Regions from separate parts of the Homo sapiens genome. Here region 1 is linked to region 2. Evidence: fine-mapped expression QTL. A gene starts in region 2. The other region holds a variant in brackets. All regions are shown on one strand. Distances are between the middles of the regions.

Region 1 (8,000 bases), 130 kb after region 2:
TTCATATCAGATGCCCAGGCAGATAGGACTGATGACTGTCCTCTGGATCTCTTGCCCCTCCCTACTCTAGGATTCAGTCCAGCATCTTCACTACATGCAGCCCTTCCTACCTACCTGTGTGGGAAGCCACTGTGCGCTGTAGTCTCGGTGCCAAGAATTCGTTGGCTACAGACCTTTGTGAGCCTCCATGGCTGATAGGAAAGGCAACGGACAACAGGTTAATAGATGAGATTGTGCTGCTCATTTGGACTGAGTACTGAAAAGTTCTTTCCAGCCCAGTAGTGTTGATTTTCCCTGGGTCTGCCTTGTTTGGAATATCTCCAGTAGTGAAGACCCTGACTTGCAACTCAGTATGTCCTAGATCCATCTACATAAATTTTTCAGCATGTTAACAGCTTTGACTTGGGCCTAGGTTGAGCAAGTTGGTCACTCTCTAAACTTTGCCAAATCATGTCCTGGTCCCCTGCTAGCCCTACACTGTTCATGTCCCATCCATAATCTCCACTGCAGCCTGGGCCTTTCCTGCTCTTGAATTACCAATCTGTGTTAACCAGCCAAAGCGTAGTTCTCAGTCGTTATACAAGAATGACTAGGCCAGTGCTTCTCAAATTTTGATGGGCTAATGAATCACCTGAGAAGCTTGTTAAAATGTACATTCTGGTTCATTAAGTCTAGAGTGGGGCCCAAGAGTATGCAGTTCTAACAATCAGCCTTGGTGATGCCAATGCTGCTGATCCATAGACCATACTTTAAGTAGCAAGTAGAGCATCTTTAGGGTCTTCTCTGTAATTGATATGCTGATGTAGAGGCCACACTTTAAGTAGCAAAAACATATGCTCATTTCCCAAATGAGTTAGACCCGACTTGGCTGCTTGAAATAAGACATTGTGGCACATCAACCTCTCTTCTTGGCAGTCAACAATAGCATCCTTTCATATTAAGGCTAAAAGAATTTTTAGGGTAACCAGGGCTGTGCAGAGGGTGTGACAAATGTGAACCTTAGTGTAGAGTATTCTTCTTAGGACTTGGGTTACTGGAAAAAAGCCTTCCTGGGCACCTGAAGCCAATCATGCAGGCCAAACTCATTTCGTATCCAGCCACTCCATTCATCGCACCCACTTTCATAGTGGTTCTGGATGGCTGCTGCCGCCACATCACTCATGCTGTGATCTGCATCAGTGGTTGAGACAACGGAAGCAGCTACATCATCCAAGCCACAATCCATTTATTTCATGCTAAGAAAAACAATCTTCTATCCAAGTGGGGCAAGCTAAGCTGGGCAGTTGCCACAACTTTAAGGTTATAGGAAATATGCCTTTTGCGCTATTTACCTCCTCAGTGGAGAGCAATGACCCCCTTGAAGAGGACCCAGATTTCATCAGTGCATCAGTGCCATGCCAGGCAGAGCAAGCCCATTTCTCCTCTGAGGCATAAGGCGTATAACTCCTGGAGTTGTTTAAACATAGATTTTCAGGCCAGGCGCAGTGGCTCATACCTGTAATCCCAACATTTTGGGAGGCTGAGGCAGGTGGATCACTTGAGGTCAGGAGCTCAAGACCAGCCTGGTCAACGTGGTGAAACCCTGTCTCTACTAAAAATACAAAAAAATTAACAGGGCCTGGTGGCACATGCCTGTAGTCCCGAGAGGTGGAGGTTGAACCTGGGAGGTGGAGGTTGCAGTGAGCCAAGATCGTGCCACTGCACTCCAGCCTGGGTGACAGAGAGATACTCTGGAAAAAAAAAAAAAAGCCATAAGTTTTCCAGAGAAACTAACTGCCTTGTTTCTCGTTTCTCTCTAAAGGTAATTCTTGAATCCTTTCCTCTTTAGCATTGCTGCTGATTGTGTTCTTTGCTCAAATAATAGCTAATAAACTTCAAAGAACATTTGTATTTGTTTTGAGGGATGCTCTGTTATGTTGATATTTACAGAGTTAAACACTGCAGATGGGGAGTTTTCCCTAAGAAGATTCCAAAGCATTATGATTTTGTGGTTTTGATCCAAAATATATACATGTTTTATGGCCTAAGGGGGTTGTCAAACAGTGTTTTAAAAAACACTGGCAAATTTAAGATGCCTTTAAAAGTAGGACAGCTTGGGGATCCAGAAGGGCCCCACACCTACATTTCCCAGTGGCTGTGTAGAAACAAGTCTTGCTGGGCTGGCCTATTGCTGGCTCTGGTGGGGTCTCCAAGCTAAAGGAGTAGTCCTCATTAACTTTTTCCCTCTTATCCACTATCCCTGCCCACCTAGGCAGGTTACTAAACTCTCCTGGAGAGCTTAATAAATACTTTCATCTTCACAGGACCTGACAACTCCATTTTCCTCAAAATGATACATAAGACTTAAGACACTGGCCAAGGGGATCAGATGCCCAGCCAAGAGGAACTGAACCATTTTGTTAAGTTCTGTCAATGAGTACTTTGCCTGAATGAGCATAGAAGCTCTTTGGGCATGGCCAACTAGTCCCTGCACTGACCCAGTCATTATGATGGCTAGCTATGTGATTTATAATTAGATTCATTTTATTCAAATAAATTCCTAGCCAGTATGGTTTCCCAGAAGTCCATCTCAAGAGTTGTCATCTTAACTCTAAGTGACTCAGGGCTTTCCCCCTGTAAACTCTCCAGCCCCAGATTCTAGTTTGCTGAAGCACTCCTAAATTCAGTCACTGCCATGTGGTTGTTTGTTCTTTGCAAATATTATAGTTAGCTCAGCTGGGTATATCCCCTGGTTAAATGAAGCCAAAGTCATGACTTTGATGACTGCTAGTGCCAGTCAGCTTACTTCTCATCCAGAGATCTAGACTTTTCCCTCCATCTTGGCCAGCCAACCTTCTTAGTAATCTATGCCATCAATGGCAAAGAAGACTAGATCAAATGGTGAGCTGGCTTTGCTTACATCTCTTTGCTTTATGCTCCACAGCTCTAGACAAAGTGTTAATTTCCAAGTGAAATATTATTTGGGAACAATCAGGGTAAGGGAGCAGAAATCTTTAGAAATATATTTTCTCTATCTCTCCTCCTTTCATATTATCTTTCCTTTTTTTCTAAATTCTAGCCTCCTTTTGTCTCTTATCAAAATAGAATTCTCAACCAGGCATGGTGGCTCACACCTGTAATCCCAACACTTTGGGAGGCCAAGGCGGGCGGATCACTTGAGGACAGGGGTTCAAGACCAGTCTGGCCAATATGGCGAAAGCCTGTCTTTACTAAAAATACAAAAACTAGCCAGGTGTGGTGGCACACACTTGCAATCCCAGCTACTCAGGAGGCTGAGGCACGAGAACCTCTTGAACCCAGGACATAGAGGTTGCAGTGAGCCGAGATCATGCCACTGCACTCTATCCTGGGCAACACAGTGAGAATCTGTCAAAAAAAAAAAAAAAAAGAAATTCTCTTGATCTGTCCTGCAAATTCTGACAGTACCTATTTATACAATCCTTATGGGACTCCCAGGAATAGAATATCATTTTACAGATGAGGAAACTGAGTCCCAGAATGGAAAAAAACAACCACATGCTCATGTATTTTAATGAGGTCCCCAAGACTTTTTTAGAAGGTAAATCTTAGATTGCACGCAAGTTCAAACATTTATAATGCCTTCTCTGAACTTTCTCCTATGGGCAAAGAAAAAGGTTGGAAAGTTTTTGAGAATGAGCATGGCTGTAACATAATCAAAAGAGTGAAGAAGTTAAAGCTGACCTTAGTGAGAAGCTTGCATGAAAGAGGACTGCTGGAGTAGCCCAAGCATGTACCAATAATAACTTCAGAATAGCTGGTACTAATTAGA[G/A]CGTAAAGAATGTGGCAGAACACAAAGAATTAATATATTTGACTTTGTGTACTCTTAGGGCAGTGGAAGGCTCCAAGATAGTATTCAAATTTTGTAACTAGGAAATTTGACAGAAATAAGAAAGTCAGAAGAAACCGCTGCTTTGGAGGCAGGGATATCTGAGAGAGTGTGAAGAATAAGTAAGGACACAAACAATAATAAAACCTGCCCAGTCTAGGAACTCCAGCTCAATTACAAAGTTGGTGATTAACTGACAGGAAACATACCATTAGCCAGAGAACCATGACTGTGTTTCTTTTAAGCACTGACTTACAATTGATTGCATGGCCTGTATCCCTGTGAGCCTGAAAAATCCTGGGCATCTTCAGGTATTTACACAACAATGTGTTCTAGAGCCCTCCCTGCCATGGAGTAACACATAGAAAAATGTATGATTCCAACTTTCCTGGACAACTGCACATGTTGGAATAATTTCAGTCACTGATGGGGGGAAGAAATAAGAGTGCGAACTTAGAATCCAGACTAGTTAAGTGTTTTTCTTCATGAACATGTGCGTCTCTGAGCCTCAATTTCCTCACCTGGTTATTTGGGATAACTATGTACTCTTTAAGATTGGAAGAATTAAACGTGATAATGTGTATACATTGTTAGCTCTGTACTCAGCCCAAAGTAGACAATAAATGTTCATTTCTATCCTTGACCCCGCCTTGACAGCCCAAGGGAAAATAGTTCAATTTAAAACCTGAGGGATGAGAGTAAAAACATTATACATCACAATACAAGAAAACCACAAATCTCTTAGTCAAAAAATGATTTAAATTTGGCATTCAGCTATAATCCCTCAGAGATGGGAGTAACCATCTATAGCCTAAGATTCTCAGGCTAATAGAAGATGGATGTGAGAGCTCGGAATCTTCGTTTCCCACTATCTCAATCAGATGATCTGTTCAGTGATACGTATTTTAAGGTGAGTCTTAATGAATGAAAGGTTTGTGGGATGGAAGTGAGGCTTTGTGGTGGAGGGCAACCAGAGTAAATCATGAGAGATGGAAAATGCTGGAGAAGGCTGTGCCTTGCATGAGAATTTGTGTGAGTAAGCAGGGTGAACCAAGCCAAAGGCTTTGGAGCCTGCGTAGATTAGAGTGGGCCTCAGTGCCAAATGGGAGTCCCAGCTAGATTTGAGGAGGAAGATATGCTTTAACACACAAACTTGTTTGTGGGCTCTCTCACTCCTCCATGCAAAGGTACTGAAGGAAAGGAGAAGAGCCCTTAAGGAAGTCACAGATGTGTTGTAGGCAAAGTGCAAGGGATATATCCATCATGACATTCCTATTGGATTTTAACTTTTAGTCTATATCAAAATGAATCTTTATTCAGAAAATGCCACAGAAACTTTGTTTTACATTAATATTGAAAGTTAAAAGAAGACAAGTATTGTGGTCATGGTCAAGTTTGGGATCTATCATTGGGGCAAACCATTTTGTCTTTCTGGGCTTCAGTTTCTTATTGGCACAATGAAGAGATTGGGACCATCACTAATTCTGGCTCTCATATTTGAGAATTCTGAGAAACTTGGAAGAACTCTGGCCACCACAAACAGCCTGACTTCTCTGCAGCTCACACAAGATTCAGCCACTCTTTCTGGAACCCAAGGCCTTGACATTAGCCTATAACCCGCCTCCATAATGCCAAATTCACTCTCATATCCCCATTGGAAAAAACTCAATTGAAAGTAAACAACTAATCAAAGTGAGTTGATCTTGGGGGTGTTTTACGTGGGTTTCTTTAGTATGGTGGATGGCACATGAAAATACTTATTTATCTTGTGAGTTTTGAACCCCATTTTGGGTGTTTCCCAAGCAGATTTTAAACCACAGTATTAAGTCAAAAAGAACTTGTCTTCCGCAAGAGAACAGCATGTTCTCTGTTGTCCTCAGGACTGTATCTTTGGCTCCTCTGTACCCTCTAGGCAAGAGTTTGCCCTTAATATTACCTTTGACAGCCCTCCAATGGTATTAGGATCAAGGAGTCTCAGCACTCCTGGAGGCACAGCAGGCAGAATAAGCTACAGTCCTTTGCACTCAGATCCAGACACTTTTCATCTTTGGCATACATTCACCCCCACTTCCTTCCCCCTTTTCCTTCTCACTGGTAACCATCATTCATACCTCACACCCAGAACTCAGAAATGTTAAGAGGTTTATCTTGGCCTTGCTTTTTAAAAATTGAGAATGCTGAAGAATGTTCCCAGATAAGTGACTTGCCTGATGAGAAGCCTTTTGCTTAGTGGAACCTAAACACATACTTTCTGAGCTCAAGTCTCACTTCAGTCAGTTCACTTTACAAGTCCATAGGCACAGGCCACAATGTGAACTACTCTGCACAGAAGTTCAGGGTATGGATGCTCAATATAAAATATACTCACTTCTGGGAATCTCTTCAAAGTTCATCTTCTGCTGGAGAAGGGGCAGCAGGGTGGGTGGTCATCTTCTTCTTTGTAGTCACTAGGTTCCATGTGGAATAAATGGGACCTGGGAAGAAGATGTACTGTGGCTGACTGGTAGCACTCCTTCCTCCAACCCATAAGTGAAGCCCCCTTTTAATCATGCATAAGGCCTTCCCCCCACTGCCACCCAACTAGGGCTGGCAAGTGCATTCTCTGGTTGTGATCTATGGTCAGCTCTCTGCCCCGGGTATCTATAAAGTGCTTACTAACATCCATGTCACTCACTACTTGCTCTCTAGGAGACGCAGTCACAAGATCAGAGCTGGAAATTACGGATTTCAAAGGGATTAAGATGCCGAATGAGGAAATGTCATGTAAGAAACCCTATTCATGGGCATGATTAATCCTCTCATGGCATCTGTTAAGAGCTCAACAGTCCATGGAGAAACTTTGAGATGACTCCTGCCCTCTGTGAGTTTGCATCGCAGGCAGTCTATCCCAGAACAATTATTTAGATACCAAACAGAAACATGAAGGAACTACACACAATCATTGTAGCATCCCCTTCAATCCAAACCCCAGTTGCTTTCTGTTATTTTTATTTTTTTTATTTTTTATATCAGATATTGTGTGGGTGAGGATCAGAGGCTTGCCTATTCTGCTCTTCCCAGATGTTAAGTAAATCTACTCCAGATGGTCTTCTAAATTTCCTTTCAGCTGACAATGCAAAGCAAGTTTACTTTCACTCAATGAAACTGACATATCTATTTGGGCATGTTTTCTTAGCTCACAGAGAGGAGAATGGAGCTACATAATTCACCAACAGGGAGACAAAGTTCAAATAAGGAACAAGATGAAAGAGAAAAATGGAAAAGGCAGGATTACATGCATTGCCAGCTTCAGAGCCAAGGTTACACTTGACTAGTAGTCAGTAGCTGCCTCCTGGAGTGAGCTATTGGAGTACTTGGAATGCCTCAAGTAAGATATTGGGGTACCTGTTAGCTCAAGTTGCCAAACAATACTTGATCAATCACTTACGGCTGTCTACAATTTGCCCCTGTATTGTAAGTCTTTGGTTCTAATATTAAAACATACATCCTTCATGAAGGAGGTCACAGTTGAAGCTGTTATCAGTCATGGACAGTCTAGTATAAGAGTTTCGTTTGGATTGAGAGACAATTTGTATTGGGAGAGAAGAAAAAGCACAAACAACTGGGAAACTGGGGTCACCTTCTGTTCAATGATTCCACAAATTAGCCAAGTACTCATCCTAATAATGCAGCTGCAAGGAGAAGAAGATTTGCAGAGGGTCAGCTCTTAATTAAAGGAAAATTTAAACAAATACAATTATAAGGAATGGAAGTCTCAGGGAAATATTAATTTGCTAACGGTAAATTAAGGATTGAATGTCGGTGAATATTTGTCTTTACCTTGTTCCATAAAATTCACAGACTGACATCCATATGCAAATATAAAGGGGTTCTTGATCTTCCCATATCAAACTCTTCACACACAGAACAGTTTCTGTATTAGCGTCTCAAATTTAGACAATCACTATATTGATTTTGATGGAAAATAAAAGGGTTTAAATCAAGTTAAAACAAAAACAAACAACAAAACAACAAAATGTGGATTCAAATGTGCTATAGAAGTCTTTCCATGAATTATTTTTAAATGAAAGTATACTTTGTAATATGAATAGTAATAGCCTGAAGTACTGGCTCTGAGTTCAGATTTTTGTATATCAGGTTTCTGAGATATGGG
Region 2 (10,922 bases):
TCATGTAAGTTTCAGAATCCAGAGTCAACTTCCAATTTTCATAAGTACTTCAAAAAATGGAAATTTTTCCAGTTGAGTATAAAGCATAACTCCTCAAACAATTGGCACCAATAATTCCTCAACATCTCTAGAACTCTCAAATCTACTCAAACATGCAACCCCTCCCCAGGTAGGGCTGGGAGGAGGGGCTAGTTTTAGTTTGGGGGTTAATTTCCCCCTGACTTGCCTATGCTGTTTCCCAGTGATCATTTTTTAACTTTCCCAGAGGGGTAAAATGGTATACATTAATAAAAATGTCAAGAATATTATCTCTGGGAGGTAACCTGGAATAATTCACAATAAATTAACACTTCCCATCAGAGGGACATTGCAGCTTATAAGAATGTCACTTTGTGAGAAGTGGGAGTCCTGAAGCCATGTGATTTCCATCTACAGTTTTTAAGCCCATTCAGAGTCTACCAGGGGATAATTACTTGCTAAGATGTAACCATCCCAGCAGAATGTATTTATTATGATTCAGTTCTATCCACATCCTCAGTATCACAGCATGAAGGAAACTCTGGTCTGGTGAATAAAGCCCTAGAGGGATAAGAAATGCCAATCCTTAACACATGGCTGTATGACCTTGGGCTATTCACTTAACCTCTCTGATTCCTCAGTTTCATAGTCTGTAGAGTGACACCTCTGCTTATCCTGAGGAGAATGTGTGGAGGAATCTCTAGATTTTTACCTGAAAGTCTCTAGAAGCCTATTTGCCTAGAAAAGAAATTATTTCTATATTAGTTTCTCACCCTGCACTCTCAATATAACATAACTCTGTTAAGAACAGAATTAAAATATCAGGCAGATGCATCTTGAACTAAATTTAGGGGGCTGAGCTACTAAAGTAACAGAAGGATCTCACCATTGAGGAGTCTACCTACAACAGACCAAAGACAAACCATTTTGGCAAGTCTTCAGGGGCCTGTAGACACTTGAAGAATAAAATTATTACCACCCACAATTCCCAGGGAGCAGGCCTTCAGGAAGACAGGGATGTCAGTGGTTATTGTGATTGTTTCCCAACCTCCATATCTCTCTCCCTCATTGTGTATCAATCATGTAATTTGGTGGTGGTGGGAAGACTGACCCTACACTAAACTGCACAGATGGGTCATAATCCTGGTCCCCTATGTCATGGCTACTGGTTCAGGTAATTCAGGCCTAAGCATGGCATTACCTGGCCACAAGATTGGATCATGAATAGTCACATGATTCACTGCCAACTAATACAAGATGATGTGACATAGATATGAAGCCAAGAAATCCTACAGCCATTTTGCCATCTTCAGGGAAACAGAAAGGAGAGAGGAAAAGAAATTAGGTTTTTGATGAAATTGTTGAAATATTGAGTCTAATGAATTCTCAAGTCAGCCATACCTTTGGCCCTTCCAGTTATGTGAGCCAATGTGTCTCCCTTAGTGTTTATATCAGTTTTAGTGGATTTGTTCTTGTCTGCAGCATGAAGTATTCTAACTGATATAGGACCATTCAAAGCATGGTCACTAACCCTGAGGGTGCTTAAAGGAGGTGGTGTGAAAGTGTTTAGTCCAGAGAGGAAGGTGTTGGAAGAGAGGTACAAAAAATACCAGGTCATTTCCAATTAATTGCTCCTCCAAATGGCTCCTGGGGATGTCTTCAGGGAAAACATGGAGTTCTAAATACCCTTATGTATAAAAAGCAAGCTAATCTGAAAATGATTTAGGATAAACAATTGCTCCCATAGCCACTACTCACTTGGTGTAACTGTCTCCTTCTAGAAGTTTCGGTGGATCGATTTCTGGACATATTAAATCCAAATTAATAAGGTTTTTCCTCTGACTCATAGATACACTTCCAACAGAAGCAACTCCAACTAGGCCTGTGTCTGAAATTTTAGCTTCTCAGGGATGTAGATTTATTTAACAACATGGAGGCCAACACTTAGATAGAAGATTTCCACAGAGGTTTCTGGAGGGGTGATATAATGGAGAAAATGGAACTATAGAGAAGTAGGTCAGAGGACCTAAGCTTTCTTAGAAGTCATACCCAACCTGAATCTCCAGATATGGCTAAACTCTCTATTCTTCCCAAATAATCTGGAAGTGACAGTGCAAAAGATGGCCACAAAGAATCAGTTGTATCTAGCTTAGTTCCTTTATTAGAGTCTAGGCTAAAGTTTGGACAGTTTTTCTAACCCCAAAATAATCTCACCTCATGGAATCATAGGATGATCAAACATAAAAGCAAGACGGGTACTTAGAAACCACTTTGTTCTATCTTGTGTTTGTAAGGGTTTGGGATAAGGGAAGTACCTTGTTTCAGATAGTTAAACACCATCCTCTGTGCTGCCATGGTACCTGGTGCTTACCATTTTCAGAGCACTTGCCATATTGCATTGTCATTGCCAGTGAATACATCTGCTCCTCCTTTGAACTTGACATTCATGAAAAGCAGAAACTGTTCCTTGCTTCCTTACATTCCTGGTGCTTAGCAAAGTCTGCCTATAGTAGGTGGTCAATAAATGTTGAAGAAATCAAAGTATCAAGTCAAATGGTTAGAAAATTATGCTCCCATTAGGCAAAGGATATAGTATCTTGGTTTCATTTTCTTCGAAGGGTATAGCAGTTTCCTTCCAATGAAATAGGATGATTTCTGTTGTTGTTTTCCTGATTTTTATGAAGTTGGCAAGTATGAGGCTCACTGTACGGTATAGATCACCTCTTAGAATTCCACTGGCCAACAGTTCTTTATGCTTATCCAAGTGCACCTCTCAAGCCTGAAACAAGCACAAAGCTCATGAAGAGAAGTACACTTTTTACTTTTTGATAAAAACTGCAATGGTTATTTTCTTGCTATTTAAACTATATCATAGAGCTCATTTAAAAGTACAGATCATAGGTACTAAGGCTAGCAGGTAATCCTAAATTCAGCAGGGATACTCTTAACCACAGAGGGAGAGCTAGGTTTGGGGCTTTGTTGGCAACTTCTGGTGGCTATGATGCTGCTAGTATAATCTCTAACCCCTCGTTGGAAAATCAAAGTTGAAGTTTATAAAGTGTCTCCCTGCTCTTTTGGGTGAGGAATCGATTGCTAAAGAATTTGCATGTATTATACAGGCTTTTCAACCAACAGCAATATGCTTAGTCTACCACTGTGCCCCTGCTGGCTCAGATGAGAGTAGTCCAACTCTGCCAACAGCTGCCACTGACAGCTAAAAATTGAAAGAGTGGCAGCAGATAAAAGAGAGGGGAAAAAGGTATTGGGCAGGGGAGGATGACAATGGAAGGGATGGGTGGCATTTACATTCATGACTTCGAGGGTTTTCAAGTGCATAGGCACCAAAATACTTTTCTGCCTCTCATCTTTAGTTACTGAGCCACCCTCATCACTCTTCAAGCCAAATGACAGTGAAGATGGCCACAGATCTTTTCTTCCACCTCCTCTTACAGCTGGCCAAGCATGGCTGGGGACGTGGCTACTTTCAGGAGTGAAGTGAGACATGCTGAAAGTCACTTTCTCCTCGTACAAAATATATTGTTCACTCACATGAAATCAAAACTAAAACCTCCTCATTAAAGTTGTTCCTTTGGGACAAGGCATTGAAGGCTCCTATTAAAATGCAACTGTGTTATCTAAAAAGGAGAAACACCTAGTGCCTGGCACAGAGTAAAGGTTCTTTAAATGTGACATTTTAATATTAAATTGTCATTGCCTGCCATTAGAATCTTAGTAAAGATTGTCTCCCGGGCCTTTTGAGGAGCCACAATGGAAAGATTTTAATGTGGAACATTGGCATAGACTTGATAGCAGAGTCTGAAGTTATGTGGAATATGAGGAGAGAGGAGGATGACAGCATGAGGAAACTTGGGGGACAAGAGGGCACTTTTACTAGGTGAGAAAGAGGGAAGGGAGTTTGGAAATTAACATTTATTGATTTTTCTCTGAGGCAGGCACTGAATTAGATGCTTTCATATCAATTATCTTACTTAATTTTCACAACTGCCTTATAAAGAAAGATATTAATATTCCCATTTTGAAGATGAGAGAACTGGGGTTCAGATTAACAAAGTTGTTCAAGGTCACACACTGCCTGTATGTGATGGGACTTAGACTCGAACCTGGACGTGTATGCCTCCTAAGCCCATGTTCCCGAATAATGCTATGTCCCTGTCTACATTTGGCAGGGGATGACCAACCTTACCTCTGCTACCCGCTTTGCCCTAATGCTTCTTCCACTGAAAAGATGAGTCTCCTCAGACTCTCATGTTTCTCCTTCACTCCTGTCCATGAAATATCAAAATGGAGACAAAAGATTTCTATGAGTGGTGGGTGGGAGGAAATTATGCATTATCAGAATGAATAGAAATTTGGGAAGAGCCTAGGACAATTTTTCTGGTTTGAAGCCATTTTGTTCCATTGTTCCAGGCTCCAGACTACGTCTCGCCAAATCCAAAGTTCTGTAGCAACTGATATACTAGCTGGGCTCCAGGGTCCTTCTATCCCCTGTATATTCCCAATTTTATCCCCGATGTATATCAGTTCGCTTTACACTGGCAGGAGAGTTCATGTTCCACTTAGACCAGGAGGAGAGGATATGAAAAGGAAAATAGCAGGTGTGGGGAGGATAAAACCCATGCCTTCTACAGTAACTGTAAAGTAAAAGTGAAAAACGTGAGAGATAAAGAGGATTCTTTTTCCTCATTGCGGGAGAAAGGGGCTAGGGAGAGGAGTCTATAGCCCAGGAGGTTCATCCGCAGCATGCTATGGAGAAGGCCACCGTCACTGAAATCCGGTCTGTACTGTAGGACTTCATAGGTTCTTTGCTCGCCTTAGAGCAGAGGGGAAGAAGAGTCAGAAAGAATTGATAACCTCTGAGGTCATCAGTCAGGGGCCTAGGCTGCTAAGTCCAGAGGCAACACCAAGGGATCAATGCAGCTAGGTACAGTTTTCTCCAGCCTCAACTTTCAATCCCCACCCCCAGACCAGCTCATTCCCACACCTCCCTCCTCCTTGGTCAGTGAGCCTGAGCGTCCTTTTCATTAACCTTTTAGTTACTACCTCTACGCACATACTTTTTCCTATGCCCTCCAAAGAAGTCAGCCCCATACTGCCCATCACTGCTCAGCACCGCCCACCCCATGCCCCCGCAAGCCGGCCTCAGCACTAGTTTAAGGGGAGGGACACGCCTCCCAAAGCTGCGGGGATGGGGGTGGGGGTTGCTCACTCGCCCTCGGATCTCTGCTGTAAAAGCGGAGCGGCAGAGACCGGGCATGCGCAGCATCTTCGGGCGCATTGTGATGGGAACTGCTTCTCTGAGTCTCTACAAAGACTCCGGAGTAACCACTAATGGCCCTCCTAAGGCCCCCCTTCTTTAAGACAGACACACAAACACAGAGGCAATGCAGCTATTTTTTTTTAAAGGGTGGGAGGACGTTGCAGCTTGAAAGGTTGATCCACGTTAGGAGTGGTGTATTTCTATTGATCCCATCTCCGGTGTTGACAAACGCCAGCGCCTAGGCTTTGCAGTCCGGGGCTGCAGTTTGCAGTAGAGCTAAGCGGTGTGCGGCTTTAATTCCACGTCAGATCAACTTTGATCAATATCCCCCTACTGGCCCAATTGGAAGAGCCCAATTCACCGGCACTGAGCCTTTTCGCTCTTTCCTTTTTTTCCCCCCCTCTTTAGACCTACCATCTTTTGCGGGGGGGGGGGGGCGCGGAGAGAGTCTCAGATTGTCTTGATAATTTATTCTTTCGTTCTCTTTCTTTTGCTTCTCTATTTTTGTTTTTCAGTGTTTTGCTTGTTTTGTTCTGTTTTAGGATTTTATTCTCTCTCTCTCTCTCTCTCTCTCTCTCTCTCTCTCTCTCTATCATAGGGACAGAAATCGCTTTGGCAAACCCAGCTTGCAGCCAATGAACCCGCCTTCCAGATTGGTGTGAAGACAGAAGTGAGGTGGGGGGAAGGGAGGGGGTGTGAGAGATCCTGGGAGCGAGAGGGAGAGAGAGGGAGCAAGAAAGGAAGAGAGAGCGAGCGAGAGAGAGCGAGCGAATAAGAGAGAGAGTAAGAGGGAGAGAGAAGAAGAGGAAGAAGAGGAGGCGGCGGCAGCGGAGGAGGAGGAGGACTAGTGTGGGGTGGAAAGGAAGAGTGAGCGAGAGCAAGTTAAGGGGAGGGGGTGTAAGAGCCAGCGAATTCTTTTTCTTTTTCTATTATTATTTTGACGACTCCTGAGTTGCGCCCATGCTCTTGTCAGCTTCGTTTTAGGCGTAGCATGGCCAGGCAGAAGAAAATGGGGCAAAGCGTGCTCCGGGCGGTCTTCTTTTTAGTCCTGGGGCTTTTGGGTCATTCTCACGGAGGATTCCCCAACACCATCAGCATAGGTAAGCGCAAGCGAGCCAGCCGTCGGTCCAGGCTCTCCCTCACCCGAGACCACTGCCCCGGCAAGGCTTTCCCTGCGGTGGGTCCCTGTCCTGCGTGGCCTGGGAACTGGGACTGGGGCCGGGACCGGGCAGAGATGGTGCGGGGCGGGGGGCGGGGCGGGGGGAATCTGAGCCTCAACGAGGTGGCTGGTCTGAAGAGCCTCTGGGACAAGAGAGGGGTCTCCTGGGGCTAGTGGGGGTGAACTGCTAGGTTTTCCGAGCCGAGAGGAGCACCGGAGGCGAGCAGGAGGCTGGGATGCTGCAAGGGGGTGAAGAGTCGAGGCTTTTCGGCTCGCTGCTCTGGACTTTGCCATGGCGTGCGTGCAGCTCCTGGAAGTTGTCCCAGGGTGATGCCGACTGTCTGGCCGCGCCAGGGCGCATAACCCGGGCCCGGGGTGCTCAGTCCGTGGTCTCCGGCTGTCGGGAGACAGGCTGGTGCTGGGGGAGGTGGAGCCCACTTTGGATCTCCCAGACCCGGGCAGCAGCAGGCGTTGGTGGTGGATGGGGTAGGAGGCGGGGGTGAGACTAGGAGCTGAGCGGGCAAGCGGCGAAGTCACGCAGACCACGAATTCATGAATTGCCGCTGTGTCTGTCTGGAGCCCGGCTCCTGGGCGCCTGGAGGGAGTTATCTTGGCTTCTGTCGTATTTACAAGTCTAGAAGTTAGAATTTTTGCCATTACTGAACCAACCCCCTGTATTGTCACGGGGGAGGGTGGCTATGGGGAACGGGTTGGGGTAGCAGGGGGAACAATATTGTTTTTCTTCCCAACCTTTCCCTTCACACAATGAAAAGATGACCAGCTGTGCGGATGGGCGGGGGGCGGAGGGGGGGGGCGACTAAAAAAAAAGAAGGCTGCCGACTAAGAAAGAACCAAGTCTCACTCTTGGTTCCATCGTCCTAACCCAAAACGGCTCCCTCGTCTCTTCTCCCTTCTCTCTAGCCTCTTCTTTTCAGTCTAGAAAAGCCAGGTTTCTCTTGGCCAAAATCTGAGTTCACAAGTCTTGAAAGACACACAGGTTGAATATCAATCCTCAATCCCACACCCCAGTATCATTGAGAGGTATCCGGTATCTATATTGTTCCCCAATTCCTAACTGGCCCTAGTGTGGGGGAACACAAGCCAAATCTCCGTTCCCTTTGCTTATAGGTGGACTTTTCATGAGAAACACAGTGCAGGAGCACAGCGCTTTCCGCTTTGCCGTGCAGTTATACAACACCAACCAGAACACCACCGAGAAGCCCTTCCATTTGAATTACCACGTAGATCACTTGGATTCCTCCAATAGTTTTTCCGTGACAAATGCTTGTAAGTAGATCTGCTTTTCCTCCCTTTGGGACGTTGGGGACCTCATTTGCATCTTTCTTGTGGCACTTAGGGTCTGTGTATGTGCTGGGAGATGATTGCTTCAGTAGATATTTTAGGGGCTCTAATCCATCCGGTTTCATGTTGCATAAATCAACTCCAAATGATACTGCTGAGGGGCTTAAGACAGTGGGAAAAACTCAAGACAGTGGGCAAAAGTCTGCTCCAAATAGTGTTTGATGCAAAAGTTTCATTTTCCTCCATGCTAACCTAGTGTGTTCCTTCTCCAACACTCTCTCTCTTTTTTTTTTAACTGGGGAAAAAAAAAGAAAGAAAGAAAAAAATAGCACGGTTGTTCAGAGAAATTTCTTCAGATGAGATTTAAAAAAGCAGCAGCAGCTTCTTGATTGAGTCAATTCAGGATGTACATCACTTGACTGTTAAAGCTAGTGCCTGGCTCTAGGAACGAGCTGAATTTGACAATTGCCTAATGTGTAGGAAGCAAATATGAGAAATTCTGCAAACAAGTGACCTTGAGGGGCAGAACAGGCTGGGTTCCCTGGCCTCTTTCTGTCCTCAAATATTACCTTACTTACTGAGAGAGCTCTGATAGGAACTCATAAGACTACAAACTGATTGCAAGTGATGAATGCCTAGCAAACTGAGGGGAGGGGAGAAAATGGTGATCAGGTGATGATTTAGAAAGCTAGTTCTGCCTCCCCTAGTGTTGTTCACCCCCATGATCATTAAAGACAACACAGTTCTTAATTTAGAGCAAAGAGGGGGCAGGAGGAGAGGAGGCTTGGAGCAGGAAAACTGAATATGGAAAGAGAAGAAATTCATCAGGCCCAAAGCCGGTTCTGAAATCCTTAGTTGTACCGGGTGATTATTCCTCTGAAAAGGGGACATTTTGTAAAATACAACCAAAGGAACCTAAATGGCTAATAGCCTGTTGGACATATGGTTTTACTTGAATGGAATGTTTCGTGAGAAAGACTGAGAATACTTCATGTAAGCTTATTTCACTAAAAGTTTTCACAACAATGAGGCTGAATATGGTATAAAATATGCTTTGCTTTTATGGCTGATGTAGTTTGGAATTTGGGGTTTTTCTTCCTTTCTCTTCCAAGGGAGAAATGATATTTATGTTTGGATGGGTGAAACTTTGTATATGACTTTCTTTAAATCCTTCTGCCTCAAAGGATGCATGGTTTCCAGAAACCACTGAAAGGGTCTCTCCAAGGGCACAGGTTTCTTGGCTTTGAAGACTTGGGCCAAGAGGATGGGGGTAACATACTCTGCAAGAAATATGACAGTTGTCAGCTTTAAGAAAATTTTAGCTGAAGATACAGATCCTTATATGAACGTGTTCTGAGATACTCCATATTTGACTTTCTTTGGCTTTCTGACATTGACAAAAATAGGAATTTATTAATTCCAGCTAGTGTGAAAGTTACGAAATGTCTGTCTATACTTTGCATCTTATTTTGGTAATCCCAGCCTGTCTCCACAGCATTTACAACACGCATCTGACTCTTAATCCTGCAGCACTGTGATCTTGTCAAGAGGCTGAATCTCAAATGCAGCTTCCTAAATATCAATTAGAACAGATTTAAAACTAAATACATTAAACTACCAGGGTTTATTACCATTAGTAACAAATAATATTTATTTCAACTCCCTTCAGTGTCTTTTCACTGATGAGAACTGGGATAAGAGAACCATTTGGTTTCTCAGAAATGATTGATTTCCAAGGTTTTTGGTCCTGTTCTTATGGTCAAACCAGATTGACACCCACCAGCCCTGGACTGTCAGAACCCCACTCAAGAAGCAATCAGAAATGATTCTTGCCATGTGAAAATCTCAGGTTTAGGAAAAGGCAATAAGTCATCCATATTGGTATTGAGTTGCCTTATTGCCTTACCTCTCAGGGCAATAAGAGAACAACCAGGGGAAAGGAAAAGAAATTGATCAAAATCCCTCACCGTAAATTCATAGCATTTCCACTTACAAGGCTGGGTTGTGGCTAGGGGCTTGAGAGTTCGGGAGAAGGAGTGTGGCTCACTGGGCAACAAGAAAAAGAAAATGAAAACGTGACCTTGCCCTTAGTTATGTCAAATACACATGTATGCATGCACAGACATACGCAGGAAAAATAGCTAGAAACCAGTGTTGTGTATCCAGCTGCCTGTTGCTTTCTCTGAAGACAGAGGAGGAAAGCTGTCATCTTCTCTGGTCCCTGAAACAGTCATCTCTGAATGTCACAATCATTGAATGGGGGCCAGATCTCAAAGCTGTCTCTAGGCAGCTGCTGCTTGGTAGCTTAGTATGAGAAAGATGACTCGTCTAACCATAGTCTTGGAATGCAGAAACCAAGTATTTCAAGGGACCAAAGAAGCCCTGGAGGTGTTTCTCATTTCTACCCCTGGCTTTAATTGTTCTTTTTCTTGTGGAAGCGGAGATCAAATATTTCCAACTGGGTTGAAATTCTAGTTCAGTGCTGGAGCCTGACAGGTGACCCCCAGGTTCCACTCCTCCAAATGATTGCCCTGATTGTGCAAAGAGAAACCTCTGTATCCTCCGGCCTGTCCTTCTCTGGAGACCTAGGGAGAATTCCAGAAAACAACAGATGAGTCTCAATCTGGCCAACCACCTCTCCTATCTGGTTCAATATGGAATGGGCTGGCAAAAATTAAAGAAACTTTCCCTTATTCCTATGCAAAATTCCTAGTTTCAACTTCCCTTAGCACTAGAATTGATCTCTTCTCATGATCTTTCCTGCACCCTCAATCCTGAGGCAGGCACACACTTTCTAGGGTGTAGGTGTGCAGGTAAACGAATACACAAAGAATAAACAAAGGGTAATTCTTTCATATATGTGTCCCTGTTCTCTGTTCTCCCTCCACATCACCCACCCCTACAACCTCTGACAATGTGTTTGAAAGGTTTCCTTGCGATGAATCCCAGGCATCAGTTATTTAAAGACTCTTCTTCATCAGAAACCAATTTTTTTGCACAACCCCCAAGAGGTTTGCTTAAGACAGACTCCAACTTTATTCCATGTCCTACGAGGCCAATAAGAGCCACACTGGCTTTGAAAGGTGTTTAATTTGGGATCTCAACTCAGAGATGGATTGAAGTTTATCTAAGAGACTTACCTGATTTGAAGCACATGTTCCCATT

Which allele goes with the higher level. Alleles are on the strand shown, and positions count from the first base shown. SD is a standard deviation of normalised expression in the study named.
As copies of G replace A in region 1, the expression in thyroid of the gene that starts at base 6,030 in region 2 goes up (large effect, 1.0 SD a copy in GTEx).

Evidence for each region.
Region 1: its variant is fine-mapped to the expression of GRIA3 in thyroid (GTEx, PIP above 0.99).

Annotation. Positions count from the first base shown.
Region 1 is chrX:123,307,630-123,315,629 of GRCh38, forward strand. All of the region lies in intron 3 of GRIA3 (glutamate ionotropic receptor AMPA type subunit 3), which reads left to right. Among named protein-coding and RNA genes, the nearest start is that of GRIA3, 130 kb to the left of the region's middle. The variant G/A (reference allele first, on the strand shown) is at 3,791.
Region 2 is chrX:123,178,249-123,189,170 of GRCh38, forward strand. GRIA3 (glutamate ionotropic receptor AMPA type subunit 3) reads left to right here and starts at 6,030. Exons shown (of 16, transcript NM_007325.5): 1 at 6,030-6,396; 2 at 7,584-7,742. The coding sequence starts at 6,288.